Regions from separate parts of the Homo sapiens genome. Here region 1 is linked to region 2. The links come from fine-mapping of genetic effects on gene expression. A gene starts in region 2. The other region holds a variant in brackets. All regions are shown on one strand. Distances are from middle to middle. Region 1 overlaps MCM8 (minichromosome maintenance 8 homologous recombination repair factor). Region 2 holds the start of MCM8 (minichromosome maintenance 8 homologous recombination repair factor).

The links. PIP is the estimated chance that this variant, and not a neighbour inherited with it, causes the effect.
Region 1: its variant is the best candidate, but not a certain one, in a credible set for the expression of MCM8 in thyroid (GTEx, PIP 0.88).

Annotation. Positions count from the first base shown.
Region 1 is chr20:5,988,012-6,004,784 of GRCh38, reverse strand. It overlaps MCM8 (minichromosome maintenance 8 homologous recombination repair factor), which reads right to left. Exons shown (of 19, transcript NM_032485.6): 18 at 11,090-11,279; 19 at 5,808-10,486. The coding sequence ends at 10,394. It overlaps MCM8-AS1 (MCM8 antisense RNA 1), which reads left to right. Exons shown (of 5, transcript NR_110101.1): 2 at 3,388-3,509; 3 at 4,110-4,264; 4 at 10,861-10,991; 5 at 13,317-13,990. It also overlaps the pseudogene RN7SL498P. Among named protein-coding and RNA genes, the nearest start is that of MCM8-AS1, 9.4 kb to the left of the region's middle. The variant G/A (reference allele first, on the strand shown) is at 7,540.
Region 2 is chr20:5,943,795-5,960,567 of GRCh38, reverse strand. It overlaps MCM8 (minichromosome maintenance 8 homologous recombination repair factor), which reads right to left and starts at 9,916. Exons shown (of 19, transcript NM_032485.6): 1 at 9,545-9,916; 2 at 8,405-8,557; 3 at 8,040-8,144; 4 at 5,878-5,960; 5 at 5,317-5,466; 6 at 3,339-3,442; 7 at 1,842-2,040. The coding sequence starts at 8,552. TRMT6 (tRNA methyltransferase 6 non-catalytic subunit) reads left to right here and starts at 10,035. Exons shown (of 11, transcript NM_015939.5): 1 at 10,035-10,290; 2 at 14,035-14,162; 3 at 15,654-15,763; 4 at 16,315-16,406; 5 at 16,537-16,620. The coding sequence starts at 10,163. RefSeq lists an enhancer at 9,900-10,039.

The DNA.
Region 1 (16,773 bases), 44 kb before region 2:
TCTGCCTCTAATCCTTGGCACTGAGGACACAAACTTGTTTTTGTGTTTTTTCCCTTTGTTGCTCTGATAGGTTTTATTTCTATTACTTATGGTATTTGTCCAACCTTTTATTAATTTTTTCTAAATTAATTCTAGTTACTGTGTTGATTTCTTCAACTTCCGTACTACTATTTATGGTAATCTAGTTTTATCCAGGCTTTGTGCCCTCAAGAATAACACCATTACCTGAGCTCTTCACTTATTTGCCTTATTGTTTGGAGCTAGCATTCATAGGTTTCTGTTTTAGATACCATTTTAGTTGTATATATTTTTTGTATATTTCAAAATATGGAATTATACTGTTATCAATGTTTAAAATAGAACATCCCCAAAATTATCTATGTAGCAAATTTTATGTTCTTCCTATTTTTCACTTCAATATAAAATTAGAGAAAAAAACTCCAAGATACAATAGAGTCCGCCAATTAAAATATAATAAACTGTTTTGTATTTAAAAAGCCAGCTCTACTACAAACTGCTGATGGCTAATTGTCTTTAAAAAGTAGGAAAATAAAGTGGCTGGCATTTTGGCCTGAAAGACAATGACTGCTCAATACTTATGACTAAAGAGTAACATGCTTTTAACAAACTGTTTCCCTAACATTTTAAGACGGGAGAACATCCAGCTATCAGTCTTTGATCTCATTTTCTAGAACTTGACAGAAGTCAATAAATGAACAGGTTAATCTGGGATAAAGGATGGAGAAAATGCAGAAACCCAGTGAAGTAGAGTTTAGAGCAGGGCAGGGGGCAGAGGAAACCAAAATATTCTACAGTTAGTAACTGGTTTATAATGTTCATTTCCTGTTTTATGAATTCTGTAATAATTTCTATCCAAGTAGATTAAACACACAGGCACCTCATATGTCTGAAGGGACTGGGAATATCTGTCACTGAACTTTTTTCCCAAATGGGGAAAAAATTAGAATAGTAAGTCTGTAATAAAAATATAAATAAAAATCTATATATAAATTCTACGTTTCATGAAGTTCATTTCAAATTTTTCTCTCTCCACCCTTGTATCAGAATTATTTTCATAAGTAACCAAAATGTACTGGTCAGGTGTCTTATCCCAACTTCTGTAGTCAATCATGTAGTGCTTACCCCAAGAGAACGTGAAAAGAGAAAGGATTGTTCAATCTTGAATAACTGGCCTGTTATTAACTGTTTAGTTCATCCTTTCATTGATCCTTTGCTGAGTTGTGAACATAAAAATTTGGCCCCTAGAGGGTAGTATTGTCTTGCCACTTTTAATGTTTTCCTTGGTTAAGTTGCAAAGTGCTGTGTATGACTGTGCTGTATATTGGAACAAATTACCTCTTTGCTACAACTTCTTGGAACCTGTTTTTAGGCTTTCTGTTTTTGTTTTTTTGTTTTGTTTTGTTTTGTTTTGAGATGAATCCTCGCCCTGTTCTTGCCCAGGCTAGAGTGCAATGGCGCTATCTCGGCTCATTGCAACTTCCGCCTCCCAGGTTCAAGCGATTCTCCTGCCTCAGCCTCCCAAGCAGCTGGGATTACAAGCGCATGCCACCACGCCCTGCTAACTCCTATGTTTTTAGTAGAGACAGGATTTCACCATGTTGGTCAGGCTGGTCTGGAACTCCCAACCTCAAGTAATCTGCCCACCTCGGCCTCCCAAAGTGCTGGGATTACAGGTGTGAGCCACCATGCCCAGGCTGTTTTTAGGCTTTTGAAAATTCTGCAACCCAATCATTCTTTCTCACTTATCACTTCTATTTGAAGTTTAAGCTTTTTGAGAAGAAAATCTTATTCCAAATCTATTATGAATATTTTCTGCCTGGGGATAAATGAACAAAGTCTAGAAATATGTGTACTGCGTTCTTATATCAGATATGCAGTGTAATGTAGTGTTACTTGTGTTATTTAGTCTAGGACACAATAAACTTGGGCTACTTTTTGTTTCCTAAAACCAGAAGAAGATAATGTAAAGAAGGCAGTTTTGCAAATGAGTCTTATGTAAATATTGATTGGAAGTTAAATCAAATTAAAACAGCTGGATATGGTGGCTGATACCTGTAATCCCAGCACTTTGGGAGGCCGAGGTGGGTGGACTGCTTGAACTCAGGAGTTCGAAACCAGCCTGGGCACTGTGAGGACCACCCCCCCACCCCCCTGCCCCGCACACCGTACCCCCCGGCTCCCCCCGCCCGCCATCTCTACCAAAAATACAAAAATAAACCTGGGCATGATGGTGGGTGCCTGTGGTACCAGCTACTCAGGAGGCTGAAGTGGGAAGATCGCTTGAGCCCAGGGAGGCAGAAGTTGCAGTGAGCCGAGATTGTGCCCCTGCACTCCATCCAGCCTGGGTGACCCACCGAGGCCTTGTCTCAAAAAAAATTCTCTAGGAATCAATGACAGTTAAATCTTACAGGAGTAAGCTGTAATTACCAGGCACTAAACCCAAAGATGTGTTTTGAATAACCAGTAATCCAAATAAGGCACAGGTTTCAATCATTGTAATAAACGCACCGTCCCACAGCCTAAATAGGAAAAAACTAAATGATGGGATTTAAGATTTGAAACACATGTAAGCAAAAGAGTGCATTGCTGGTAGGGCCAAGCACCTTGGGCATAGCTCCTCAGGACTTGCAGAGATTAACTCCACCTAAACTCTATAATTTAGATTACTGTTTAAATTATCAAGAGATCTAAACTAATTCTCCTTTTCATTTTTGTTATTTTATTTTTTATGTAAGAGACAGGGTCTTACTATGTTGCCCAGGCTAGAATGCCGTGGCTTTTCACGGGGCGATCCCACTACTGACCAGGACGGGAATTTTGACCTGCTCCATTTCTGGCCTGGGCAGGTTCATCCCTCCTTAGGAAACCTGGTGGTCCACCACTCCCAGATCAACATGTTGATGCCGAACTTAGTGTGGACACCCAGTCAGCATAGCACACTATAATAGCCCAGAATTCCTGGCTTCAAGCAATCCTCCTGCCTCAGCCTCCTGTGTAGCTGGGACTACAGGCATGTGCCACTGCACCTGGCTAAACTAATTCTTATGTCAACTTCTAGTGCCAACCTTTCCACATTTCTTCCTGAAAATGTACTGATGTCACTAGAATATGTGAACAATTAAGTCATTACTAAGTTTTTATATGGTTGTTTTGGAACCTTTAAAAGAAATAACATTCTCGTAAGGCAGGCATTATCTACAAATAAGAAAGTAAAAAGGGTTGGTTTTAATATTTCTTTCCTCTCTGCTCATATTTTAAAGGTGATAAAGGGATTGTTAACATCATTTAGTGTACAACTAGCTTTATTTTCCATTCCATTCCTCCTTCCTGTAAAGATTTAAGAATCTTGTTTTCCTTTTGTTACAGGGGTCCCCAACCCCTGGGCTGTGGACCAGTACCAATCCATGGCCTGTTAGGAACCAGGCCACACAGCAGGAGGCGAGCGGCAGGCAAGCGAGCATCACCACCTGAGCTCTGCTTCCTGCCAGGTCAGCAGCGCATTCGATTCTCATGGGAGGGTGAACCCTACTGTGAACTGCACATGCGAAGAATCTAAGTTGTGCGTTCCTTATGAGAATCTAACTAATGATGACTTGAGGTGGAAGTTTCATCCCGAAACATTCCCCCATCCAGGTCCGTGGAAAACTGTCTTCCTTGAAACCAGTCCCTGTTGCCAAAAAGGTTGGGGATTGCTGGTTCAGAAAGCTTTAACGTTACATCCAACTATCCTTTCTATTCAGATCATGTGACAGAGTTTCCAAAAATGGTAAACCACCTGTTTCCCTCTGGTCCTGCAGAAAAAAAATTAAACCAGTACTGTGGTCTCTTTAAACAGTTTATTTCTGAGAAGAACCTTCAAATGCGAGCACAAGATAATTTTTCCCCCCCAAATCCTAGGCATTTTAGTTCATTTAAAATGGGTTTATGTAATACCTGCAAATGGAACACAAACATACCATTTTTTTCTTTCTTCTCTCAGCCACATGAAGAATTTAGTTTTTGAACATGGTAAAATATTCTTCAGCTATTAATTTCCTGTACATACCTCATAGTCCCTGTTTATATTTTGGGTATTTTTTTTTTTTTAGAGACATTGCACTCCACATAGACTCGCTCTGTACCTAGTCTGGAATGCAGTGGTGTGATCACGGCTCAGTGCAGCCTCAAACTCCTGGGCTCAAGCAATCCTACTGCCTCAGCCTCCTGAGTAGCTGGAACCACAGGCATATGCCACCATGCCCAGGTAATTTTTTTTTTTTTTAAGAGATAGGGTCTCCCTATATATTCCCTGGGCTGGTTGGTCTCCAACTCCTGACCTTCAACAGTTCTCTTGCCTTGGCCTCCCAAAGTGCTGAGATTACAGATGTGAGCCACCATGCCCAGCTCTGTTTACATTTTTAAAAACCATGTCGCCACACAAGCGAGCATTTTTTATTCAGTTAAATCAGATTGTTTAAAAACCTTAACTGTGAGGCTGGGCACAGTGGCTCACACCTGTAATCCTAGCACTTTGGGAGGCCGAGGTGGGCGGATCACCTGAGGTCAGGAGTTCGAGACCAGCCTGATCAATATGGTGAAACCTCGTCTCTACTAAAAATACAAAAATTAGCCGGGCATGATGGCACGCACCTGTAATCTCAGTTACTCAGGCTGAGACAGGAGAATTGCTTGAACCCCGGCGGCGGAAGTTGCAGTGAGTCGAGATCTCACCATTGCACTCCAGCATGGATGACAGAGCGAAACTCCATCTCAAAAATAAAAAAACAAAAACCTTAACTGTGGCATACATACTGAGATGTAAAAAAAGATTCTAGAGCCACCCACAGTCCTTGGCTGAAGGCCTCCTTCCCTCATCTGCAAAGCCAGCAATGCTGCATCCGTGCCTTCTTCTGTAGTCACATCTTCCTCTGGCTCTCTTCTGCCTCCCTCTTCCACTTTAAAGGTTCTTTCTAATTATATTGGACCCATGCAGATAATCCAAGATGATCTCCCTATTTTAAGGTCACCTGATTAGCCATCTTAATTTCCCCTTGCTATGTAACCTAACACATTCACAGGTTCTGGGCATTAGGATGTGATGTCTTGCAGGGTGGGTACTATTCTGCCTAGCAAACACGTGAATGCAGTGTTCCGAGGTGTTTCTCAGGACTTACAAGAGTCACTTTAATACTAAAGATAATATACATTCTCTAAGGAAGAGGAGTTTGCAGACTATCCAGTGTTTTCAATATATCTAGATGTTTCAACCTGAGGAAGCTGATTACTATATATATATATATGGAGAGAAAGAGAATATATATACACTCCATAGAGTATATATACACTATATATATATACTGTACTCTCTAGAGTATATAGACTATATATAGTGTATATATAGAGTATATATACTCTATACATATCTGTATAGTATATATATACACTCTATAGTGTATATATATACTGTAGAGTATATAGTATATATAATATATAGTATATATAATATATATACTTTATAGAGTGTATACTCTAGAGTGTGTATACTCTAGTGTATATATATATACACACTAGTATATATACTGTATATGGAGTGTATATATATACTCTATATAGTGTGTGTGTGTGTGTATATATATACACATATATACTCTCTCTATATATATGACATGTTGAAATTACTATACATTTCTAGAAGCAAAGACTAAGAGTCTGTAGTCCCAAGGAATTATTCAGTGACTTTGCAAGTCTATGTACTAAGAATAATTCTGATTTAAATGTCAGAATCTGGCTCAGTTTTTGTTTTAACCTTTTTTTTAAAATTTTTAATCAGTGTTATGTATACACATGGTAAGTAACTCCATGGTATAGAAAAACTGATGATGGAATTCAATAGGTGCACTCTGCCTTTCCATTCCCAAGCCCACGCTCTAGAGCAAGCCTGGTATAGCTTTTGTTTTCAGTTCTTCTGAGGGTTAAATAAAACGAGTAGGTAGTTTTGTGAATTAATATTGCCTTATAATTTTAAGTATAGTACATGACCCAGGTGGAGTGCTTTAGATACAGATGTATGAGTGATTAGTTGCAGGAAACACAAACTACTGTAGCTAGCCACATTTAAAAGGACTGTAAAACAGGGAACTGGATGCTTGCAATATTGTCACAAGGGCTAGGAGTGGGTTCCATACTGGGTCTCCAGAATTAACTCCCAGAAAAACACTGCAGGTCTGTCTGGCTTGCCAGAGGCGCTGCTACCCCACAATAATGAGAAAGGTGAAGAATCAGGGTTGCATCCACCACGCCACTTGCCTCAACAACTGACTGCAAGAATTCTGCTGCAGGGAAATTAAATGTCTCCTCAACCACACATGCCACCAGAACACAAGCAAGAGGAAGATGGCTCTCTCCTCAGTTCTGCATTCCAAATCTCACACATGGGTGTCTGATCAGTGGAACCCAATTCACATCTGGAAATCTACCTGCAAAGGGAGTCTGGGAAATGTGGTTATTTTCTCACCTTCCAGCCCCTGCATTATAGGAAGGCACACTAGGAGAGCAGAATGGACACTGAATACCAAATCACCGTATCATTGTATCTACATTTATCCACCTCTTTGGCTAGTCAATATCCATACCATTGTTTATGAATTCAATGCATTCATAAACAATATATGAATATTGTTTAATATTCTTCTGTATAACAACAGCAACTATAACATGCTAATGTAAGTACGATATTTCCCTTCTTTATCAAAGGAGAGCTATAAAGATCCATCAATCACAGGGTGGTGTTTATTCCTCTTCTCGTTCAGTTATACCCTCACCTTGATATCTCTATCCTAAAAATGAAATGATCAAGTTGATTACCACCAATACAATTTACTTAACACAATATTGGAAAAGAGAGGAGGCTGGGCATGGTGGCTCACACCTGTAGTCTCAGCTACTCAGGAAGCCCTGGAGTTTGAGACCAGCTTGGGCAACAAAGGAAGACCTCATCTCTACTAAAAATCAAAATTAGCTGGGCATGGTGTTGCATTCCTGTAGTTCCAGCTACTCAGGAGGCTGAGGTAGGAGGATTGCTTGAGCCCAGGAGATCACGGCTTGATCATGTCACTGCACTCCAGCCTGGGCGACAGAACAAGACCCCCATCTCTTAAAATTTCATCTCGCAGCCAGGTGTAGTGGTGCATGCCTGTAGTCTCAGCTATTCAGGAGGCTGAGGTGGGAGGACTGCTTGAGCTGAGTAGTTCAAGTCCATACTGGACAACATGGCAAGACCACCATCTCTTGAAAAAGAAACTTTTGGCTGGGCACAATGGCTCACGCCTGTAATCCCGGCACTTTTTGGGAGACCGAGGCAGGCAATCACCTGAGTTCGGGAGTTAAAAACCAGCCTCACCAACATGGAGAAACCCCGTCTCTACTAAAAATACAAAATTAGCCATGGTGGCACATGCCTATAATCCCAGCTACTTGGGAGGCTGAGGCAGGAGAAACGCTTGAACCCAGGAGGCGGAGGTTGCGGTGAACCAAGATCGC[G/A]CCACTGTACTCCAGCCTGAGCAAAAAGAGCAAAACTCTGTCTCAAAAAAAAAAAAAAAAGAAAAAAGAAAAAAAAAGAAACTTTCATGATGTAATGTTTTCTTGCTTTGCATGTTTCTGTTCTGACATTTGTACTTAGGATTTGTTTTAATCAGCAATGGTGACACAGAAACAATTGCCTATGGAAGATTACTTTCATCTCCCAAGAGGGCGTGCCATGCCACACCAGGCCACATGAGGAAACACCAAAGTCAGTCAGGCAGTAAAGAAGCAAGTGAAAAGCCTAGGCCAGAGCTTTGTTGCTACAGTGGTTGAAAGGTGTGGGGACACCCACTATTGGGCAGGAAGTGAAATACTATATGTTGGGGTTTGTGGTTGGAGGGACTGTAATGTGATGTTTGCACACCCATAAAAGCTGGATTGTAAGGGAAAGCTAAACAACTTTTGTTGTTAGTTTGGCCCTGTGATTAATGGATGCTAAATACATAATCTAAGGAAACATGGAACTTCTTCTTCTGAAAATGTAGGTTTATGTCTTTTTAAAAATAAATTTATATAATAGCCTTAACCTTTGAGACTTATTTTCCTCTTTGAACAATAAATTAGTATATTTTCTCTTCTGTCTACCACTTTATTTTGGTTGATATTATTTATGTGTTGACTTTTGTGAAATGTTTTAAATTCTATTAATAGATTTTTTTTCAGCTTTAAATATCTCTTATTTAGTTTGGAGAAAGAGTCTCACTCTGTTGCCCAGGCTGGAGTGCAGTGGTACGATCTTGGCTCACTGCAACCTCTGCCTCCCGGGTTCAAGTGATTCTCCTGCCTCAGCCTCCTTAGTGGCTGGGACTACAGGCACACACCACCATGCCTGAGTTATTTGCTTTAAATATCTTTTAACTCCTAGCTTTTAAAGACTTCACTATATTTATACTACTATCTACTTTCTCCATTTTTTTTTTTTTTCTTTAAGAGACAAGGTCTTGCTCTCTTGCCCAGGCTGGAGTGCAGTGGTATAATCATAGCTCACTGTAACCTCAAACTCTCGGGCTCAAGTGATTTCCTACTTCAGCCTCCACAGTAGGTAGGACAATAGGCATGCACCACCGTGCCCAGCTAATCTATTTTTTGTAGAGATAGGGTCTCAATGTGTTGCATAGGCTGGTCTCAAAACTGGCTTCAAGTGATCCTCCTGCCTCGAACTCCCAAAGCTCTGGGATTATAGATGTGAGCCACTGCACCTGGCCCCTTTTGATTCCTGATTTTTCCTTCCTCACTTAAAAATTTACATTGTGGTCTATGGCAATAGTCTCCACATCTTAGTTCTGGTCCTATAGTTAAACATCTGATATACACTGCCAGTTCTTTTTATTTACATTTTCCATTCATCTTCGTTTGCGGGAAGCCGTATTTTAGTAGATTCTCCAACAATGGTTCACATTTCCTGAGTTCTTGTATGTTACAAAGTGTTTGTTGGATTTATACATGATTGATAGTTTGGCTGGCAACCCTGTAACATTTGAATCCTCTCACAACATATGAGAAATTCTGGTCTTATTGATCCCACCACCTGAAAGTAGAACCAGGAAAACTCCCTAGCAGCCTATGAAAGGGGCATATAACATACCCTTTTTCAATCAGATGTCTTTGTATGCAACTTCTTTTTTGAATTCAGCAATTTAGGGAGGCATCTCATGCAGAATCCTTTTGTTGCTGTTCCGGTGCGGGTGGGGGCATTCTTCTACCTATTCCTGCTGCAGAAGTGGCAAAGGTGGGGCAGGGAGGCAGCAGCACTTTCTTCCAGTGCCCTGTGTGGCAGTGGAGTGTCAGCAGCTTCTTCCTTAGTCCAATTCTAAGGCATGGTTTTACAAATTGCTGCTGGAAGCTTACCCTCCTGGTTCACCTGCCTTCTAATAATTCCGTGAGCCAAACAAAATTCTTTCAAAAAACTTCTCCTGCTTAATCAGTCTGTTTCTATTGTTTCAAGCAAGACTACAAACTACAGCCTGTGGAATAAATGAGACCTATTATTAAATAGCTAAAAACAAAACTCAAGTATTTTGTATTCTTGACATGGGAAAATTTTATGAAATTCAAATTTTAGTGTCCATAAATAAAGTTTTATTGGAACACAGAATATGTAATATATTCATTGGTTTATGTATTTGTCTGTATGCCTACATCTGATATGCAAAACTATGAAATATTCATACATATAAAAGGCAGGTCAAAAATACAACTATAAAAAATTTATAAGTAATTTACTTTTAGCCCTTTGGAGAATTTATTTAACAATTAACACATGGCTACCACTACAATTTTTTTTATTTTTTTGAGTCAAGAGTTACTTTATTGCCCAGGCTGGAGTGCAGTGATTGGTGTGATTGTGGCTCACTGTAACCTCAAACTCCTGGGCTCAAAGAATCCTCCTGCCTCAGCCTCACAAGTAGCTGAGACTATAGGCATGTGCCACCATACCCAGCTAAGTTTAAATTTTTTTTTTTTTTTTTTAAGAAATGGGGTCTTGCTATGTTGCCCAAGGTTGGTCTCGAACCCTGGCCTCAAGGAATCCTCTCACCTCAGCCTCCTGAGTCACTGTGATTACAGTGTGAGCTACTGCATCTGGAGACTTTATCACTTCTTAAATTAGTTTATTATATTTAATGCTTTTTTCCTATTATAATACTTTTGGGACATCATTTTTCAGAGAACAGTATTTGACTGTGTGTGTGTGTGTGTGTGTGTGTGTGTGTGTGTGTGTGTGTGTCTGTCTGTCTGTGCGTGCACGCATATCTTCACTGAGATGGCTTTAATCTGCAATAAACCCAGGAGGCCCTAACTTGGTGAAGTCCTTTTACATAGTTTGAAGCTGGTAAACTTTTGGGCCTTTTTTCAAGAGGTAACCCTGGTCATTTAGTGATCCAATAAAATTTTCAAAATCAGCAACCTGGAAGAAAACATCAAAAGGTTTAGCCCATTAAGTAACATGTCAAAATATTACTTTTAAAATAAATCTCTCAAATAATAATATGTACCTGTAAAGTTTCTTGGCCAAATAAAATTATTTTTATTTCTTACAGAGCAAACTGCCTATATTTGAGTTCTGGATTCTATAATGCCTAAATAAATAAAAAGTAAAAATTCCAATATGCAGAGAATATTTTACATTTGTTTTAGGTTAGCTGAAAAAAATCAAGCTAACTTTTGAAATTAAGAAGTTAATTTTCCATAATGTGTAACAGCCCATGTTTGAAGTGCTATTACATTGATTTTCACGAGAACTTTGAAGTAGGAATTGGTATAATCATGTCCATTTAACAGATGAGGGATGCAACGTTAAAAGATGTTAAAATGACATATCCACAAGAGACAGTCAGAAAAACATAGAGACTGTCTTACTACAATGTTTCCCTCTGACTATCAAGATGCTGAAAACCTTTGAGAAGAAGCAGGTATGAATTTTAAATAAGTAAAAACTGTTTCTGTTCTACTATATATTAACAAGGACCTCCTGAAATTATTACAAAAGAGATTAACTAGTTTAACATACCTGAATGTTTAGTTCTTTGGCAATCTGCCGAAGTTGATGAAATTGAAATATATTATTATAAGTTCTTTCAGCAACGTTGTTGAGAGCAGAAATAAATCTTTTCGCTGTTGACCTGTTGCTCATTCCAGAACCATGCTGGGATCGCTCAAAATCTAGGTTCCCAAATTCATCAGAGTAAGTTCCTAGCATGCTTAAAAAGAAAGGAAGAAAAAATTACCCAATGTAGCACTGCCATAGAAATTGTTGTCCTGGGCTTTCAGGTTACAGAAGAAAAATTTGGAAGTAGCCACAAGGCTCACTTAGCAAACATTTCAACATGTGTTTATTGAGGGGCCACTCTGAAATTCACTATGATGGATTGATAAGGAATAAAAATATTTTGGACACAGTTACTGCTTTTAAGAAACTTCTAAATTTGGAGAGAGAAATGCATAAAAACACAAAATTGATAAACTACAATATAAATACCTGGGACATTCTTTTTGATTCATGAAGAAAAGAAATTCTAAATATAATAAATTTAGACTTCACTAAATAAAAATGTGTCCCATCTCCTGGAGCAGCATCTGGCCGCACCAGTATTTTAAATAAAAGGTATTTAAAATACTCTAGGAATGAACTAGAAAGGTTATGGTGAGTTGCAGTGATACTGGTTAGATATTAAAGGATGCACCTATTACTGCCAGATTTCTTCTGCTTTCTCTAATTTTCACAATATCACCAAGGAAAGAAGTACGTACTTGATAGTGAATTTTAGCTAAAGTCTGAAAACACTAGTTAGAAACATAATTAACCATCCTGTTTAATCCAACTCTATTGCTGATTCCCTGCCTCAACAATGGGATAGCTATATTTCACAGCCAGACTAATTGGCAAAACTGTTATTTAATCAGGAATTAATTAATTAGTCAAATACATACTGGTCACCTGCTGGGCAACAGGCTTATAGTGGTGAACAAAACAGGTATAATCCCTTCCCTTAATGAGCTGCAGGAATGATTTTAATGGGTTATAAACAATAAAGCTTCCTTTTGTTCCTTGAATAGTTAAAAGCCTACGTTATGCAAATAGGAATGAGTCATTCAAATAAAACTATTAAAAATGATAAAACAGTAAGATGGTAAGTGTTTTCCTCTGAAATACAGCATAATCTCTTTTAAGATGAACCTCCCATATGCTTGTTTCTCATGAGAAAGTTGTTAAAAATGCTTTCAGTTAATAATAATAGGTAACATTTATCTTAATTATATTTGTTTAACATAGGCTATCCCACTTAATCCTCCCAGCAATCCTGTGATTTAGGAACTATTCTTATTCCCATTTTACGGATGAAAAAACATTCTTATTAGGTTGGTGCAAGAGTAATAGAGGTTTTTGAAATTGCTTTTCTTATGGCAAAAACTGCAACTACTTTTGCACCAACCTATGCTAAGATTAAAGTGACTTGCCAGAAGTTACACAACTAGTAAGTGGCATATCTCAGATTTGAATCTGCTACACTGCTTCAGATTTTAAAAAGCTATGTAAAATATTTGAGCTAGTTTCCTGAAATAGAAAAAAACAATGATCTTTCACCTTTGAAGGTGGCTCTGTTCTCTTCTGCTACCTAGTATGTTTTCAATTTTAGGAGAAAGCTTATGTGAACTGTCTACTAAATATAAGCATTTAGTTTTTTAAAATACAGCTAAGTGCTCTGGTAACTCAGACAAGCTATGTCACAGTTTAAGAATTTTCTTATTCAACTGTCAGCTTCCCAGTTAAAATGTAATCTTAAAAGGTTTAAAACCACATTAAGGGCAAAGACTGAACGAAGCTGAAGAGATGAAAACTCTGAAATGGAAGATTTAATGAATGAATGAATCATTACTAAGGTCAACTTTACTATCAGTGCAGGACATTTACTGAAGGCCTACTTTATGACAGGCATGATTCTGGGCCCTGGGAATATACTGGTAAATGAGTCAGATAAGGTCCCTGCTCTCATAAACTAAGGAAAGAATGCATGTTGAGCATAACAAACAGATAATTCATAATCTAATTTCATTGTGTTTCACTGGATCTTGATCTCTACCATGAACATAGTGTCAGGTAATTCCAATCAAACTATTTTCTTTTTCCTGAAAATTTTTATGAATGCCAGTAAACATACTGAGACAATTCAGGGAAACAATCTGGTAATGTCATGTGGGTACTGTTTACACTTAATAATAAGACCTCTTTTTTTCAGGGGCCCAGATGTAAACTGATCTGAAACTTGTTCAAATTTACCACCAAAGCAACTCTGGGAAGCAGTACAAATACAGAGTTCCATGAGACAACACTTAAGAGTTCCTCTTGGACAGGAAAGCACATGCAAACACTGTCCAACATGAGTATTCAGACATGCAGAGAAATCTTATACCAAGTATAACCAACCATAAATGGGCAATATAGCATTTTTACTGAAAAGGTAAATATAGCCTAATTTACTCTGCTTAAGCATGATGCTCAGATAGGAGAACTAATCTACCGTGTCCACAGACCAGTGAATTTACTGTGGGGAAACAGTAAACAGTTGAGGTGACGTCTATGGTCTAAGGCCTGCAGAAATTGAGCAATGGTAAAGCCTCAAGAGGAGAATGTTACAGGTTAAGAGAGAAAAGGAGCAGGGTAGTGTACCCCTTAGTTTGCTCGACAGATGAACAGTCTACAAAGTAGAAACATGACATTCAGGAGAGCCAGGCACCAGAAGACCCAGAGGGCCAGAGATCATTAAAAGGAAAAAGAAATCAGGAGTGGGAATCTCAGCCACACTCCCAAAGGTGGAGTGTTCAAGTGCAGGATGCAGAGAAAGCAAGATGCACACATTCTAGACTGTAAGTCAACAAGCAACTTCTCATCATTAAATAAGAAGTGCCTATTTTTGGTCTTTGTTTTTTTTATAGGAAAAAAAGTTAAAATTAAAAAAAATTCTGAAATTTTGGTTGGGTTGTGACTTACTTTCCTAATGGGAAAAAATATCTCTGCTAGGTCAGTCTCTAGTCTGGTCTCTTAGAAAGCCATACCCACAAGAAGTCAGGCAGACAACTAGATTTTGTGGCCATTCTTTTACTTCATATGCTAGCACACCATGCCCCTAGCAGCAAGTTGTATGAGAAAGTCTAGTAAATTCCTAGACTATCTGGTTGCTTATAAATGGCAACTAGAGGGTCTCCAACATAATGAGATCAACTGGAGAGGGACTAAAGCCAGGTTGGTAAAATTTTCAGCTACAAGATCCCTCAAACCCTAGTACTGAATCACATAAAGAGAGAAAATTGATGGGTCAAGGACTGTGTGATGTCAGGCGCGGTGGCTCCCACCTGTAATCCCAGCACTTTGGGAGGCCAACGTGGGCAGATCACCTGAGGTCAGGAGTTCAAGACTAGCCTGGCCAACTTGGCAAAACCCCGTCTCTACCAAAAATACAAAAAAATTAGCTGGGCGTGGTGGCAGGTGCCTGTAATCCCAGCTATTCAGGAGGCTGAGGCAGGAGAATCGCTTGAACCCAGGAGGCAGAGGTTGCAGTGAACTGAGATCACGCCACTGTACTCTCCAGCCTGGATGACAGAGTGAGACTCTGTCTAAATAAAAGAGAAAAAAAAAAAAGCACTGTGTGATGCCATACCAATAGGATACTTAGACACAGAAGGTAAGTTGTTAGAAATTAGCTCAAAGGGTTGGGAGTCAATAATTATTAATTTTTCTTATTATGAGGCAGTTACTTTGGTGCCACCAATAAAAAATTAAGAGCTGTCAATTCTAGAATCTTTAAAGCTTTCAAAGACAGCCAGTAGAACCTCACGGTTGCTTACAAACTCTGAGACTGAATTAAGGAGAAAGGTTCCTCTTCTTCCATGGACTCCCTCTAAGGGCAGGAAACAACCTGCAGATTCTTGTACCTTCAGGAGGTGACATGGGTGCCCTTCTACCCATCTGCATACCTCTAGAGGCAGCAGAGAGAAGACAGCAGCCTCCAGGGATGGGGCAGTACCAGGCTGGGGACAAAGAGACAACTAGGTAAAGTCTCTCCCTATGAGGAAAAGACAAGAAGAAAAGGATCTGCAGCTAAGACATACTGCACAATTTAGATGGAGAGCACTGAGGACTAGACCATAAAAATTCTTTGAAAAGGGTGATTTTGGAAACTTCTTATCTAGGGTGAGATCTGCCAGTTTTTGAGGCCTTTGGTTTATGGTATAACTCAGAGAAAAGGGGATCTGCTCAGCCTCATCTGAGTATCAACAAAACTTACACTATCAGGCCAGGCGTGGTGGCTCATGCCTGTAATCCCAGCACTTTGGGAGGACAAGGCAGGCAGATCACTTAAGGCCAGCACTTTGAGACCATCCTGGCCAACATGGTGAAACCCCATCTCTACTAAAAATACAAAAATTAGCAGGTGTGGTGGCATGCACCTGTAGTCCCAGCTACATGGGAGGCTCAGGCAGGAGAATTGCTTGAACCCAGGGGGCGCAGGCTGCAGTGAGCCAATATCACACCACTGCACTCCAGCCCGGGCGACAGAGCCAGACTGTCTCAAAAAAAAAAAAAAAAGACTTGCGCTATTGATAGTAAACAGTGTTTACTGAGTGTTCTCTAATGTATCAGAACCGTATTCGTCACTTTATTGAGCATCACTGCATGACACCTCAGAGCACAATCCTTTGTGGTGTGTTTTACACCAGAGGAAACTGAGAAGCAGTGTGTAACCTGCCATGGCAGCTCCAGGTTGAACTCCAAAGCCCTTGCTCTTCCAGCTATGCTGCACTTTTATTCACAGCCAAAGGGGAATAGCTGGGCAAAACCACCTGGGCAAAACCACCTGGTTCTGACACCACGCAAACCTCAGAATCAGCAGCTACTAGGACAAAAGAATTCATCTACCTTAGAAGAATTAGAAATTACTTAACAAAATTAGATAATTTCATCTTCAATATATTTTTTGGTCTTGGAAAAGTAGACTCCTAACAGATAATGTATTTTCATTGCTATCAGAGGATATTAAAAATGCATTTTAAATGAAAAAAGCAAGGTATAGCATGTATATGGTATGTTGTTATAGTTACCATTTGTCTACAAAGGGGAAAAAAGAATATATAGATATGTAGTCACACAAAAAACTGCTAATAATTGCCACTGGCTAGCAGGAAGAACGGGGTAACTATTAAGCTGAGTAGGAGGAAACTTTTTCCACTATATACTTTTTTTTTTTTGAGACAGAGTCTTGCTCTGTCACCCAGGCTAGAGTACAGTGGCACAATCTCAGCTCACTGCAACCTCCACCTCCCAGGTTCAAGCAAATCTCCCGCCTCAGCCTCCCAAGTAACTGAGATTACAGGCACTAGCCACCACGCCCAGCTAATTTTTTGTATTTTTAGTAGAGACGGGGTTTCACCATGTTGCCCAGACTGGTCTCGAACTCCTGACCTCAGGTGATCCACTTGCCTCGGCCTCCCAAAGTGCTGGGATTACAGGTGTGAGCCACCATACCTGGCCTATACTTTTTGAACTTTGGAATTTTGAAGCTTATGAAAGTATGGACCTATTAAAAAAATTTTTTTATCTGGAATAAAAAAAACTACCCAAAATAATATTACTGATTTTTAAAAATCTATGTCTAAGGTAAACATATATGCTCAACTAATTTTTCTTTTCTACCTTCT
Region 2 (16,773 bases):
ACAACAAAAAAACCCACAAAGTTAAAAGACAAACCAAAGACTGGGAGAAAATATCTAATGTATATAATCAACAATAATTAGTATCTAGAATGTATAAAGAACTCCTATCAATAAACTAATAGAACCAGGCACAGTGGCTGGCACCTGTAGTCCCAACTACGTGGGAAGCTGAGATGGGAAGATCACCTGAGCCCAGGAGTTCAAGGTTGTAATGAGCTATGATCATGTCACTACACTCCAGCCTGGGCAACAGAATGAGACCCCATCTCTAAAAAACAAAATTAAAGAATAAACCAATAAACAGGAAAATGAACATTAGATATAAATAGAAAATTCGATAAAGAAACTGAATGGCCAGTAAAGATATGAAAAGATGCTCAACCACAACAGAAATCAGAAAAATTCACATTATAAATGCAGTATTATTTATACCTAACAAACTGTCAAAAATGTACAAGTCTAACAATACCAAGTGTTAATGAAAAGACAGAGAAATGGTAACTACTTAACACTACCAGCAAAGATTTAAGTTGGGAACAATACTCTGGAAAGTAATTTGGTAACATCTAATACAGTTAAAAATAAGTACAGCCGGCCAATCCCAGCACTCTGGGAGGCTGAGGCAGGCGGATCACCAGGTCAGGAGTTTGAGAACAGCCTGGCCAACATAGTGAAACCTTGTCTCTACCAAAAATACAAAAATTAGCCAGGCATGGTGGCGCGTGCCTGTAGTCCCAGCTACTCGAGAGGCTGAGGCAGGAGAACTGCTTGAACCCAGGAGGCGGAGGTTGCGGTGAGCCAAGATCGCGCCACTGCACTCCAGCCCGGGCAACAGAGCGAGACTCCGTCTCAAAAAAAAAAAAAAAAAAAAAAAAAAGTACAGCCTACAACTTAGTATTCCTCTGCTAAGGAGACATGTACAAGAATGTTCTCTGCAGTATCATTTGTTCTTATAAAAAACTGGAAAGAGCACAATTGTCTACCTCCAGGAAAATGGATAAATTGTGGCTATTTATTTAAAGCAACACTCCACAATAGTAAAAATGAAAGAATTTGATATGTATTAAAATAGGTAGAACTACAAAATAACCAAATAAAAAAACAGCTGCGTGTTACATTCAGGATACCATTTACGTAAACACAATACAAAAAACTAACTCTACACATGTAGTCAAGAATAAAAATGTAAACTTGAAGAATACATGCCAATTTCAGCATAGTGGTTGCATCTAGGGAGCAAATAAAGGGAATAAAACTGAGAACAGAAAGACTTCAACTTTATATAACCATATTTTTGTTACAAATTAAGCTAAAATAATATTAATATTTGCCAAATCATAGAGTAGATAAATGTTAATTACATTATTCTCTGCACTTTTCTATAGTTTTAAAATCCAGTTTAATAAAGGCTAATAAAGATTTAAAAAACCCATCACTTCTAAATAGTAGAAGAAATAAAGGGGAAAAAAAACTTGGTGTGTATACCTAGAAGTCAACAGAAATATGAATGGAAGGGATGCATATTATAATAACTTCAGGATAATGATCATCCCTGGGAATGGTATAGGTAAAAAACAGACACTAATTGTGCCAGTAATGCTTTATATCATTAAAAAATGTGTCCGGAGCTGAAAAATGTAAATTCGGGGTGATGAGTAGTGGAATGTTTTATTTATTTCTGTATTTTTCTTACCCTGAAGTATTTCATAATATAAAAGCAGAAAATTGAAAATAAAAAATAAAAATAAGCTCTGTGTTCAGAAACACTGGGAAATGTTTTCTGTATTCTGATTTGCCTTCTTTACCAAGATAAATAAAGAAGCAGTTAAAGAACGTATTACCTTTGTGGGAAGACTGTATTTTCCATCTGGAAGAGGAAAGCTCTGAATTTCTCCACATGCAGCACAAAGAAAAGCCATCTTGGTGCAAAGAGGCTTTATATTACTGACACGAACCACTGTCCCTCTTAGAGCAATGTATTTTCCATAGTAATTTGCTCTGACATTCTTGAGCTGTGTCAAAGGCTCATAGTTGTACACCCTAAAGACAAAACAGGAAGTAATGAACAGAAAATTGATGTTTTTTATATTTTCACAAGTTCCTTTTAGGAGCAACTATGGAATTCTCAAATCAAATCATCCCTTCGATATATCAGAAATATCACAAGAATTAAACCATTCTTGTTGTGTTTTGTTTTCTTGAGATGGAGTCTCGCTCTGTTGCCAGGCTGGAGTGCAGGGGTGCCATCTTGGCTCACTGCAACCACTGCCTCCCGGGTTCAAGTGATTCTCCTGCCTCAGTCTCCCGAGTAGCTGGGACTACAGGTGTGTGCCACCACACCCAGCTAATTTTTGTATTTTTAGTAGAGACAGGGTTTCACCATGTTGGCCAGGATGGTCTCGATCGCTTGACCTCGTGATCCGCCTGCCTCGGACTCCCAGTGCTGGGATTACAGGCATGAGCCACCGTGCCCAGCCAAACCATTCTTAACAAGAAACAACACTAAATCTTCCTTTTTCTTCTTGTCTCACAGGCTGTTCTCAAGGAAAAAAGAAAAAAGAAATTTAAGGAAAAAAATAATGCCAAAAGGAAAATCTACAGATTCAAAAACCTTTGGGTTTCTAAGTTCTTTTTAAAGAACTGCTAGGAAATTTTCTTCTATAAATTCTGGAAAAGAAAAACAAAATGCTGATGATTACCTTATAATGAATTCTTCTAATGAATTTAAAATCTTAAAGATGAATTCAAGAAAAACAAAATAATTTCATTATTCCCTTGTATCTAACAAAAACCTAATAATTTAACAAAGAACACTTAGTGTATTACAGACTGAGTATATCCCTTATCCAAAATGCCTGGGACCAGAAGTATTTTGGAATTTTTGGACTTCCAAATATTTGCAATATTACTAGTTGAGTATCTCTAATTCAAAAATCTGAAGTGCTCCAATGAACATTTCCTTTCAGTGTCGTGTCAGGGCTCAAAGTTTTGAATTTTGGAGCATTTCAGATTTCAGATTTTCAGATTAGGGATACTCAACCCATACATGGATTATTAAACTTACACAGCAGGGTCTTGATAAGTTCACATCCAAAACCAATGTTTACAAAAATCTGCAGGTTAGGAAATCAACATTTTCTTCCTTATTTAGGAAGTATCTGTCATGATGTCTTTGAATAATTTTCAATGAGTTTATTTCAGTGTGATGATCAATGAGATGGCAAGGAACTCATGTCCTTTTTACTGATTTCCTCATTTTTATAAAATGAGCGTTTTCATTCTTAAATGGCCTTCAATGTCCCATTCTAAGTAATACTTTAATACATCAAATTCCTCACCTTGCATGAATATGTGGCACATTTACCATTGTTTCTCCATCATTAGACAATCCTTCCTGGGCTTGTAACTCAGCTGCATGCCTTTCAAGGTCCTTAGTTAACACCTAAACAGGACAGACATTTACTCTGAAGTTGGAAAACAAAACATCCTCTTTATACAGAACTCTATTTTTATAGAGAATATAAAGTTTATGGACAGAAACAGAATAAAAACAGAAAACTTTAACAGCCCTTTAAATATCTAATATTTAATTATGACTACTTACTTTATAGTGGATGTTTTACATTGGATTTTGCTGTCCCTGTGCTGAAAAACTCCAGCATCCCAGTCTGCTACTTTCTGTCCCAACTAAACCTAACATTAAAAGCCCTTACATTAGTCCCCAAAACCATCACCTCTTGATACTAATTAAAAAAAAAAAAATGCATTCCTATTTCTCTATATTCACTGACCAATCAAGACACAGAAAATAAAAATGACCTTTAAAATACCTAATACTCACTCCCTTGGCATTTAACATTAAATAATATAAACACGCTGGGCGCAGTGGCTCACACCTGTTATCCCAGCACTTTGGGAGGCCAAAGTGGGTGGATCCCCTGAGGTCAGGAGTTTGAGACCAGCCCGACCAACATGGTGAAACCCCATCTCTACTAAAAATACAAAAATTAGCCAAGTGTGGCAGTGCATGCCTATAATCCCAGCTACTTGGGAGGCTGAGGCTGCAATGAGGCAAGATCACACCATTGCACTCCAGCCTGGGCAACAAGAGCAAAACTCCATTTCAAAATAAATAAATAAATAAACAACAAACAAACATTTAATACCACTTGTACACAGCAGTTTGCTGGCAACCTAAGAGGCAAAATAAGATGCATATATACAGCTGTAATTGTCATAAGGACCATAAAGATGTACAGACAAAATACCATGCAAGTTTCGAAAAGTGGTCATGAGAAAGGTTTTACAGACAGACAACTGAGCTAGGCCCAAATAATCTGTCCATGTGAAGGGAAGGGGATTCTATGTTGAATGGACAGCACAGGCAAGAGGTAGAAGAATGCCCCTCTGAATGCCCCAGCACTTTGTGTATGCCTGTCCTGAGATTTGCTATTCATTACCTTGAAGCATGTATCTGTTTGCTAGCCTAAAAAATGTTTTTGGCCGGGCAAGGTGGCTCATGCCTGTAATCCTAGCACTTTAGGAAGCCAAGGCAGGCGGATCACAAGATCAAGAGATCAAGACCATCCTGGCCAACATCGTGAAACCCCGTCTCTACTAAAACTCCAAAACTTAGCTGGGCATGGTGGTGCACCCAGCCACTCGGGAGGCTGAGGCAAGAGAATCACTTGAACCCGGGAGGCAGAGGTTGCAGTGAGCGGAGATCATGACACTGCACTCCAGCCTGGCAACAAAGTGAAACTCCATCTCAAAAAAATAAATAAAAAATAAATTTAAAAAATTTAAAAAGTTAAAAATGTTTTCATATATGTTGTATTACCTGACCCTGAAAAAAAACTCAGGCAAGCACAGTACAAACTGTTATTTACATTTGATATACAGGGACACTCAGTGGTTTGCTTCATGCCACAGAACCTAAATCTAAGGTTGCTCTTTTTTGCTCTAAGTTCATAACCGATAACACCATGATTCCTTGTTTTATCTTCCCTATGAGATTGTATAACTTCTTGAAAGCAAAGTTTAATTTCTGCACAATCTTTAGCAAGATTAAGCAAATCCAAATAAGTTGGAGGTAAATATTTCATTTAGATAAGCTGTTGTATATAGAATGAATGGTATCTTTCAGAACGGAACTGCAACCTCTCAGTTCTAGCCAACATCTTTTCGTAAAAGCTAAGTATCTCTTATAGAAAGTACAGTCACTGTAAAATCTTCCTTTAAACTTAGACAAGGTGTGCATGTGTGTGCAAACATTAAAAAAGTTTAGACAAAAGTATGCATAAGACAAATAGTTACCTGATGTATTGCCAAACCCATGCAAGCCAAGGTTTTCTCAGGTGCATCTCTTAGTTCAGTTGCTATATCTGGTATCAAGTTAGTTACTTCACCACCTTCTGTCAGTTCTTTAAAATCTACCAAAATACTTCCCTTTCTTTCTATTTCATCCTATAAAATATAAAAGTATGAAAACAATAATTGCTTTTCTGTAGTCAATTACCATTAACTGAGCATTCTATTATAGACTTTGAGAAAGCATACAATGTTTATATGTGATAATGGTAAGTATGACATAAGTATAAGCTTTGTGCCAAGCATGGTTCTGATATTTTAAATATATTAATGTATTACTGCCTCTTAACAATCCTTTGAGGTAGGTATTTATACCTCTATCTCCAAATGAAAGAAAACTGAGGCACAGAGAAGTAATTAATCAAAGTCCATACTGCAGGTAAGTGGCAGAACTGAGGTCTGAACCAAGGAAGTCTGACTCCAGTGCCTACGATCATAATCACAAGTACCTCGAATACATTGGTAAGATGGCACATGACTGGTAGCTTTGCTGTAGAGGAATCTTACCTTGTCATACAAATCAATATGCCTTGTGAAAAATTTTTCAAATGCTTGAATCTTCTCAATCAAAGGAGAGCTATCGCTGTAAACTAATCCAACAAATATGGCATTAGCACAAATAATCACACAGGTACATGCACATTTTTCATGAGACAAAAGCAGCACTATATACATGGTAGATGATTTTTTTCTAATTGCTTTGTATTTTGATTACATTCATATAAGAACTAGTATAGAATGTAAACTTAAGATTCTAAAACAAATTTAGGTTTGCATAATGTGAAATGCAGACAGAAACTCTCTCTCTCTAAAAGCCCCACTATCTGGGAAACTTTGTTTTGCATCTTTGACACCTAATAGGACATGTTAGTTCAGATAATTTAGACAATAAGCTTAAACTAAAAATTATAATAAAGCCAAAGCCAGACACATAAACTAAGCTCTTACTCTGACAGAGCTGAAGACAATCACAATCACAGTCTTTCCTGAGATCAGGAGACAGACCAACACTTGACCCTGGTGGCAAAACTGAAAAGCCTTTTTTTTTTTAACACTCTAAAGTTCTACATTTTCAAATATGTCTCTCACAGAAGAACAGTACAATAAAGTAGTTTGGAAGCACAGATGGTGAAGGCTAAGGCACCTCTTGAACTCCATCTTTAGGACTGTCCAAAGATCACTTATAGTGTTCTGAGCTATCTGCTAGGGGAGCAATGGGAGTGCTGGTGGCTAATACATCCTAAAGGAACAAAAGATCATTCATGAAACAGATTCTATTGATGGAAAAAAACGAACAGATTTCCAATAAAGAAAACATTTGTAAAGTACTCTATTCATTCACAAAATGACTACTGCATGCCTGGTATGGGGCAGGGAGGGTCCTGGACCTCAAACGTCTAGTTTTCCTAAAAAAAAAAAGTATGCGGCTGGGTGCGGTGGCTCACGTCTGGAATCCTAGCACTTTGGGAGGCCGAGGCGGGCGGATAACGAGGTCAGGAGATCAAGACCATCCTAGCTAACACGGTGAAACCCCGTCTCTACTAAAAACAGAAAAAATTAGCCGGGCGTGGTGGCGGGTGCCTGTAGTCCCAGCTACTCGGGAGGCTGAGGCAGGAGAATGGCGTGAACCTGGGAGGCAGAGCTTGCAGTGAGCCAAGATCGCGCCACTGCACTTCAGCCTGGGCAACAGAGCAAGACTCCATCTCAAAAAAAAATAAAAAGTATGCACACACACACACACACACACACACACACACACCCCTCATGAGACATAAGAAACAAATGGGTATTTTAACAGCACAAAAAAGACAGTTCCCTGCACCTATACAGACTGATGTAGGTTAATTGGTATTCCTAATTATCAAAGGGAGATTCCTTACCTGTGTTTCTACACAAAGCTGTATTTGTTATTGTCCCTTGATTTCAGGCCCACTGTTCTACTTCCTGCTCTGCGATGCTATAATTCAGATCTGTACCCTACATGTCTCAGATTCTCTTTAAATTCTGCCAATTGAAGGCACTTTAGAGACGGGAAGGTGGCAGGAAGAGAAAGGAATTTATTCTTGTTTCCAACTCTTTTCAGCATCTCTGCAGCTGCAGAAGATAACGATAGTGCTAGCCTCCAGTTCCAAGCACCACTGAGTCATGCCCCCTCAGTTACCAGTGGCAACCAGCTTCATTTGCCTTAGTGGTCTAAGCACAGCTCTGTAAGGTAGCCTTCAGAAGTCCAAGCATAGCTTTGTAGGGTGCCCCTCAAAAGTCAAAATAACAGCTATGCTGTGACCTCTCCAACCTTTGAATTCCCACATTCTGGTAACCTCAGAACTTCTTTTAGTCTCTTAGCCATAAGGATGGTTGCTGCTTCCTGAATTACTACTTTCTGGGGAGTTACCTCAATATTTCCTTTCTGCTCTTTCAGTCTTCCATTTTTGTATCCAATTTCTTGTATTAAGTCCCCTTTTTGAAATACCTAGTATGGTTTCTGCTTTCCTGACTGATATAAAGTCTAAAATGCTTTTGAAACATAAACATCATTTAATTGTTTGGGTGAACTAAGATTAAAGCAGGTATATGTTAGTAAATGAATTACAGTAATACAAGATGTAGCATCCAAAGACAAGTTAAGAAAATATGATTTATGGTGCTTTTTTGTACTTTTTAAACCCTACCTTCAGAGAAATAAAGCTTCCAGCCTTTATATGGTATGAATCGATCCAATGTTGACTGCATTGACTGTGGGGTCTTTGTTGAAAGCAAAAACTGTGGGGTTTGTTCTGAAAAAAATAAAATACTAGGTTAGTAGAAACAGAGTGAACATTTTTCCAATATGCTTCTCTTTCCAAATGAGACTCTCATTAATAGAGTATCCAAATTAGGGGTTTTAGTAAAAATCTGGGACATCAATGTTCAAATACTTACTAAGGAGTAGCATGAAATAAAAGACAAACTGAAGTATGAGATAAACCGCCTTGTATGATAGACGTGAATTGCTTCCTTAAGTGAAAAAAATTGAACAATCATTGACCTCACCTACCAGAAGTACGTTTTCCTGTGGTTTTACTCAGATCAGGTCTGTGTTCTCTTTCTCTCCATTTTCCTGAGAAGTTCCCACCACCTCTTCCCCTTTTCCAGCTTTGAAATCTTCCTCGTCCAAATCCTCTGCCTCTATACTCTCCATTCATCTCTCCTAAAAGATAGATATTAAAAAGGTCTTCACCAAAACTGTAAGGAAAATAGTGCTCTTAAAAATGTATTAATAAAAAGGGAAAAATTAATGTATTCTAGGTTCAAGAGTAGCAAACAGGCTTGCAAAGTTGTACAGCTATGATACAAGACCCAAATATTCTGCAGTTAAGTTTCTAATCTCTATCGCTTTTTAAGGTATACCATAATAGTTTAATAACTATTAAATATGGTTTACGTATACTAGACGCTCACAGGTTAAAAATAAGGACAGGTACTGTACCTGTTTACAAGTCCCCATTACAGAAATGAAAATAGGACAGGTAATTAACTCTATGAAAACTTATTTGCAGTATTTGAGACTTCTTATTATAGGGCAGGACAGGATGAACATAATTCTGGCCTGTGAGACACTAGGGATACATCATCATAGCTTCTTACATACAGTCAATCCTGCAGTGTCACATCCATTTTTTGTGCAGTTTTTCTGTAAATCCAAAACTGTTCTTATAAAATACACGTCTACTTAAAAATGATTCATATCCTAAGTATACAAGTAAATAAAGATATACCTGTACGCTGCAGTGCAATTCATTATCAAATACTCTACCCAAATCCTTACTTAAAAGGGGTTTAGTTAATAAAACAAGATAGTAACTAGAAAGTTCACGATTTAACGGCATGACAGGGCTCCAATAATTAGGCATTACACATTATGAAACTGATGCTCAAAGAAATTAAGCAAACCGATCAAGATCAAAGTTGTTTGTCGACAGTACAGAGATAAAACTTTCAGCCTCCCAAGCTGAGGCGCTCCTTCAACAACGCTGCGTGCCATACCCTTCTCAAACGAGACAATATGCTGAGAACAGTAACAAATTCAAAAAAACGTTAAGAAGTAGGACTGGAGAAAGAGTAAAAAGAAACAGTTGGGTACCTGTGCTTCTTCAAATACTACTTTATTTACATCTCCTAAGGCTAAAGTTCTTACTTGCTTGGGACAGAGGTCCCAAAGCTCTCCTAGTTCACAACTGGGCCGGCTCCAGGATACGCGCAGATCTGTCCGGCCGGATTCTCCCTCCCTCCCTCCCGTAGAGAAGCACCACGGGGCTAAGAGTCTCCGGGATCTTAGCTCCTCAGGCGACTCCTGCCAAGTCCGCAGTTCTCTTCAGCCGCAGCTTTCCTGTCGTCCCCGCGCGGTGCTGAACCCCATCTGTCTCAACGGCTCGGGAAACTCAGTTTCCCCACCGCAGCTTCCAGAAGGTGTCTGTAGCGCACAGCGCCGCAAAAATGCCTCAAGCGAAAATCAGGTCTTCCCCTAAATTCTTTTTTGGCGCTTCAGTGATCCAACTTCCGCTCAAAGAAGCGGCAAGACGAGAGGGGCGGGGCGGAGTGCAGCCAATCAAGGAGTTTGGCCAGACGGAAGCCGAGAGGCTTCCGGAAGCGGTCTTGAGGTCTGGGCCGGAAAGCGGAAGCGGCGTGCAACACGTGGGGGCGGTGCCGGTCGGAGGGCTCCTAGTGCGCCAGGTTGTGGGAAGTGAGGCTGGCGGTGGCGACAACCGAGGAGGAGGGGCGGGACGCCGTGGAGCACGGCGACCGGCTGAGCGTCATGGAGGGCTCAGGGGAGCAGCCGGGCCCACAACCACAGCATCCCGGAGACCACCGCATCCGCGACGGCGACTTCGTGGTGCTGAAACGTGAAGATGTGTTTAAAGCAGTACAAGTCCAGCGGAGAAAGTAAGTCAGATCGCTGATTTTAGGGGTCTCCCGCCCCCACCTTGTAGATACCCCCTCCCTCCAGGTTTCTCCACAGAATTCTTCCGCCAGGGTGCCATTCTTGGCTCTCTCGGTCCCCATTCCCCGCCCTCGTTGTCTCCTCGGGTCTTTCTGTCACAGAAGGCTTTTCCACCAGGATCCCGTCTTCGAACCTCATAATCTCCCTTAACCCTCCTGTTTTTCCCGGAGCCCCCTCCATGATTTCATATCTGGCCGTCCACCTTCAGCATCCTTTTCAGTCTTTCCACAGAGTTCCTTCCCCAGAATTCCATTCTTGGCCCTAGGGTGCCAATGCCTCCCTCTCCACACCCTAATCACCTGTCCTGAAGTTCTTTCCCTAGGACCTTGGGATCTTCACTGTCTTTCCAGAGACACCCCCTCCTTTCTTCACTTTAGGATCTCATCCTTGTCTCCAGAGTCTCCTTCAGGTTCCCCCTTTTTTTCCACCATAGATCCTCCTTCTTCCCTAATCCCCCAGTCAGGATCTATCCCACAAAAAATGAAACGTCTCCTACCTAGTCTGGCTTTCTATCCTCTTCTCTACCCAAGCAGGATACACAGAATAGATGAAGGAGACAATTCACCACAGAGTGTGGAATCACTTTGAGTTTCCCTCGTTTTACTCACCAAAGGATTCAACGCTGGGAAAATTGCTAAAAAGCAATTTGCTCAAGGCCTCAGAACTCCAAATTAGGTTTGGTTTGTGCACCTGCTGGCTAGTATCGCTCTGTTTTATAGAAGTAAAGAAGTGGGATTTTGATAACTTTCTGGAAGGGCTGGTGAGGTTGTTAAGTCCTAAGAGCTTATTAATGGTGAAAATTTATTGGGATATTTGGATTAATTTATCTGAGAAATACAACCACAGTGTTTTTGTTTTTGAGACGGAGTCTTGCTTTGTCACCCAGGCTTTAGGGCAGTAGTGCAATCTCGGCTCATTGCAGCCTCTGCCTCCGAGGTTCAAGCGATTCTCCTGCCTCAGCCTCCCTAGTGGCTGGGACTCTGGCACCATCACACTCGGCTAATCTTTTTTTTTTTTTTTTGTATTTTTAGTAGAGACGGGGTTTCACCATGTTGGCCAGGCTGATCTCGAACTCCTGACCTCAGGTGATCCACCCGCCTCGGCCTCCCAAAGTGCTGGGATTACAGGTGTGAGCCACCGCACCTGGCCACAGTTTCTTTTGAGCTAGGTTATTGTATTACTTTTGACAGAGATAAGTTGAATGCAATGTCAGGAGAACAGCTTTCTGCAGACTGGGAAGTATGAGATTTGGAATTTCTGATAAGTACTTACTTCAGATGAATTCTTTTACTCCTGGTTTAAGCAAACTGTTGACTGGTATTTAAGGTGAAGCAAGCATCATAAAATAGTCAAGAAACAAGTCTCCAGAGCACTAAGCTGGTGATAACCAAGCTTTTTGCACAAGCACTAATTTAGTAAAGATAAAAAGTTTCTTTTATGAGGGGTATGTTTCTTTTAGTCCGGAAATGTAATACCTGCACCAACCTTTAACCATTTTTAAATTCTTCTTTTTTTTCTTTTTTAAACTAATTAATTTTTTTTGCAGAGACAGAGTTTCACTATGTTGTCTAGGCTAGTCTCCAATTCCTGGGCTCAAGTAATTCCGGCCACCTCAGCCTCCCAAAGTGCTGGGATTACAGGCATGAACAGTAGTTGACCTTCCCCTTTTGTGGTGCCAAAAGGGTTGGAGACCACTGCCCTAAACATTTATTTGGAAATACTTTTCAACAGGCCCTCTTCTTCGCAGAAGTCATAGTGGCAGTTTCCATTTTATTTAGGAAATGACTCTCTCAGCTCAGCTGCATCCCAGGTCAGACTCCCTCATCACCCTTGGGGCTACACTCATCTGATTGGGCAAAAAACAGTCCAGGCTCTCTGAGAAGTAGACTCTGCAAATCCTACTCCTTCCCAGTAAAGATGTGGCCTCCTTATCCCTCTAACGGGGCCCCACATTCCCGACTGGGGCAGTGACCTGTCAAACCAGCCAGTTTTAAGTGACACGCATCATCCCCTCTGCATATCACATAGGCTCTCAGAGAGGTAAACCCACCCATCTCAGATCCAGTGTTTTTGTTTGGTTTGTCTGTTTGTTTGTTTTGTGAGACGGGATCTCACTCGGTCCCCCAGGCTAGAGTGTAGTGGCGTGAACTTGGCTCACTGCAACCACTGCCTCTTGGGCTCAAGCAATCTTCCACCTCAGCCTCCTCAGTAACTAATTTGTGTACTTTTTGTAGAGAAACTCCTGAATTCAAGTGACCCTCCTGCTTCAGCCTCCCAAGTAGCTGGGACTACAGGTGTGTGCCACTACACCTGGCTAATTTTTTTATTTTTTGTAGAGACGGAGTTTTTCCCCGTCAGCCAGGCTGGTCTCAAACTCCTGGACTCAAGTGACCCACCTGGCCTCCCACAGTTCTGGGATTACAAGTGTGACCCACCACACCTGGCCAGATCCAGTGTTTCAAAGCACCTAGGTGATTAAAGGATGAGGATAGGGGGTGCACATCTGGGCTGAGCTGAATTGCAACATCTGAGGAGGTTTACATTAGCAAATATTTTGAGTGTCTGTTACATTCTGTTGTATGTAAGTATCTAGGGACCCAGCAAATAACAAGAATTGGCCATATCTGAATCACTTACGATCATACAGGATTTCCCTCAGATGGTTTGAGTAAGCTTTAATGAAGATGTGACTCAAAAGTGTGGCCGATTTAGGGAACCAATAAAGGTGACACACCCAGAGACCAGCAATGGTGGTAAGCCTCTGACACGGGAGCGTGGGTGATGTGGCAGTATATTCTGTCGTAATCAGCTTCCTGGTGGCACAGAGAAAGGAAGAGAAGGAGTGGGATGGGGCACAATCAGAATTAACCACCACATGATTCCCAGAATTCAGTGTTCTGTGCACATGGGCCATGTCCTGAAGCTAGGTGGGCTTTCTACCGTCCTTAGGTCTTTGCTGGAGTAGACCGTGTGGTATAGTGGAAAGAATGAGGCTTGGGGTCAGACACAGATTTGAATTTGAATCCCAGCTCCAACAACACCTTGCAACTGTGAATCTTGGACAAGATACTTCTCCCTGGGCCTCGGATTGCTCTTCTGGAAAGAGCTATGTCCCAGGATTACCGTGAGAATTAAATCAAAAAGTGTGAATCACACCTCGCACACACTGCCTAGCCCCTGGTTGGCACTCAGCAGATGTTAGTTTTCTTTTGAGAAGAAAGCATTGTGTTCCTGTGGGATTTCTCTTTTAAATTGCAATAAGATAAAAAATCTATGTCATAGGAAACCTCAAGTTGCCTGGTCCTCAGTAGAGCATTGTCAGTGTTAGGCTCCATTTCCAAGTGTGTAGATTGTCAGTGTTTATTTGCAAGTATAATTTGCTTTTATTAGATAATTTTCAAATAAAATGGCCGATCAGACCAAGCCCAAGAAATTTGTTAAATCCTTGTTACTTCGATGAGTCTTTGCTTCCCCTTTCCAAAATTCAGTGTTCTTGTGGCTTATTCATTAATTTTACGTCTCTATCCCAACCAGGTTCTCTCTAGTTCCTTTGTTGCTTTATGTTCAGAGATAATGCTGCTGATCATCCATTGTGGAGACCACTTTTGAAATAAACTGTAGTGAACATGTCTTTTCTGTACTGGATAGAAAAGATATTCAGTTAATTGATTACTTTTTTTCCCTAGAAAAGTAACTTTCGAAAAACAGTGGTTCTACCTGGATAACGTCATTGGCCATAGTTATGGAACTGCATTTGAAGTGACCAGTGGAGGAAGTCTACAGCCCAAGAAGAAGAGGGAAGAGCCTACTGCAGGTGCACATTTTGGATGCGTGAAATAGATGCTCTCCAACTGACTAGTCAGAAACATCTCAGCCTCCACCTAATTCCCAAGTGCTAGGCCATGCTATCCCAAAAGAAATCTTAACTCATAATCTAAGAACTGCAGCTCAGTGGAGTGAAGCAAGTACTGCCTTTGGCCATGAGATAACCTGGATTCTGGCTCCAGCCCACCATTAAATGGTTCTCTGTTCTTGGGCCAGGCATTTAATCCTATGAGTCGTTGCTGCGTCATTGCAAGAACATAATGTAAAGTTCTTTCAGTGCCCAGAAGTTATGTAACAGCTGTGAGGTGGTTAGCATATGGTGTAGAGGTTAAGAGGTCTGGTTTTGGATCCAGCTAAGTTCAATTTCTACCTTCATCACTTGCCTTGTACCGTTGGGCAACTTATTTGATTTCTGTGAGTCTTATATCCTTATATATGTAAAATAGGGTCATAAACACATTTAATGCCTAGGTTGTATTGAGTGTTCTATGATATGACTCATAGGAAGTTCTGAATAGTGTCTTGCTTTTAGTAAGGGCCCATAATTTTAGCTATTACTATTATTATTTCTTAACAACCTCTTGTCCAAAAGCTGTTATTGTTAATTAAAATTATATTTATTAAAATGAACATTGAGAGTATCTTATTAATTAAAACACAAGTAATTATTTGAAGTTAAATACTGTTAAAGTTTTGAGTCAAACCTGTTATTTAGATACATTTAAATTAATATCCATATTTTTACTAAGCACCAAATATATGCCAGGTATAATTTGGCGCTGCAATTATAGCAGTTCATAAGATAGACTGTCGTATAAAATGTGCTTACCAGTTGGAACACCAAAAATAATCAAGTAGACAAGCAAACAGCATGATTTCTGATGGTGAAGTGACACATGCTATGAAGATAATAAAGCAGGGGCGTGTACTAATTTGGTAAAGCAAGAGAATGAGCTCAGCCTCAAGTGATAGAAAGGATCCAGCCACTCAGACATCTGTCGTAGAACCTTCCAGGCAGAGGAAGCAGCAGGTGCCAAAAGCCTGCTGTGGGACCTTGCTGGGTGTGTTCAAGGAACAGAAAGAAGGCCATTGTGGCTGAAGCTAAAGTGTCAAGAGATCAGGCCAGGAATGATAGGCAGGGGCCAGATCATTTATGACCTTGCAGGTCATCTTTGGAGTGTATTCTTATTGCTATGGGAAGCCACTGTATGGTTTTAAGCATGGGGTAGATGAGTCAAATTGCATTTAAACAAAGAGCACTCTGGCATCCAGGTGGATAGTAGGGGGGCAAGACTGGGAGCAGGAAGATGACTTAGAGGCTTGGAGTAGTTTTGGCAGGAAAGGATAGTGTGATGGGGGCAGTGCAGCTGGGAGGCCAGACTTGAGTGGCTGATGGACTGGATGTGGATATGAACTCAGAAAAAGAAAGTGTCAAATAATTTCAGACCATAAATGTCAATAGAGCAATTTCTTTCCTTAGAGACTAAAGAAGCGGGCACTGATAATCGAAATATAGTTGATGATGGGAAATCTCAGAAACTTACTCAAGATGACATAAAAGCTTTGAAGGACAAGGGCATTAAAGGAGAGGTAATATTCAAAGGATTTTTAGTTTTGTTTTTGTCTGTTTGGCATTTAGGAAACTGTTGGGTTTTTAAAGCAGACTGTACCTAAGGTAAAACAAAAAAATAACGTTATAGCTTTGATAGAAATAGGTTGAAATGTACATGTTACTCAACATTTCAAAGATTTTATGTCTTATATACAGGAATATAAGTGAATGACATTACTAATGTCAGTGGTAGAGAATGTAATAACAGTGCATATCAGGATTTAACTTTGTTCATTTTCAGTAATGTTTTCAGCCAGTGTCTTCAGAAATTAGTTTCCTTTACCTCTCTTCTCCTTTTGTTGGATATCTCTGTTCTTTTACGTTGGTTTAAGTGGAGTTATAAAGTACTTGTATTTTATTATAAATTCCAAATAGAGTATAGAAATATAAAGTTCATCTATTTGGACTTCTGTGGAAAAGGGATTGGAGAATCAGACCATTGGATCCATTCTTGGGTAAGAAGCCTTTGGAAATTACTTGTTTTGTGAAAGTAAAGTTTCAGAAAATCTACTTGCTCCTTTTCTTATAGGAAATAGTTCAGCAGTTAATTGAAAATAGTACAACATTCCGAGACAAGACAGAATTTGCCCAAGATAAATATATTAAAAAGAAGAAAAAAAAGTAAGTAGTTTTTATTTTAAAAGGCCCACAATATTAAACTTCTTATATGTTTATAAAATATACATTTTATTACAAATAAAATATTTTAAGTCATTTTTTTAAATCAGCGTTCTGTTTTTTCTTCCCCCAGATATGAAGCCATCATTACTGTTGTGAAGCCATCCACCCGTATTCTTTCAATTATGTATTATGCAAGAGAACCTGGAAAAATTAAGTACGCTTTGTTTCCTTTCAAAAGTATAATTGGGGGAAATATGTCTTTAAGAAAGTCATGATTTTAAGTAAAATGAAAAAGCTTGCTCACCTGCATAAAGTATCCTCCTACCTCATAAATTGTAAGTCCTTTTACTGTCACCTCCAAAGCAAT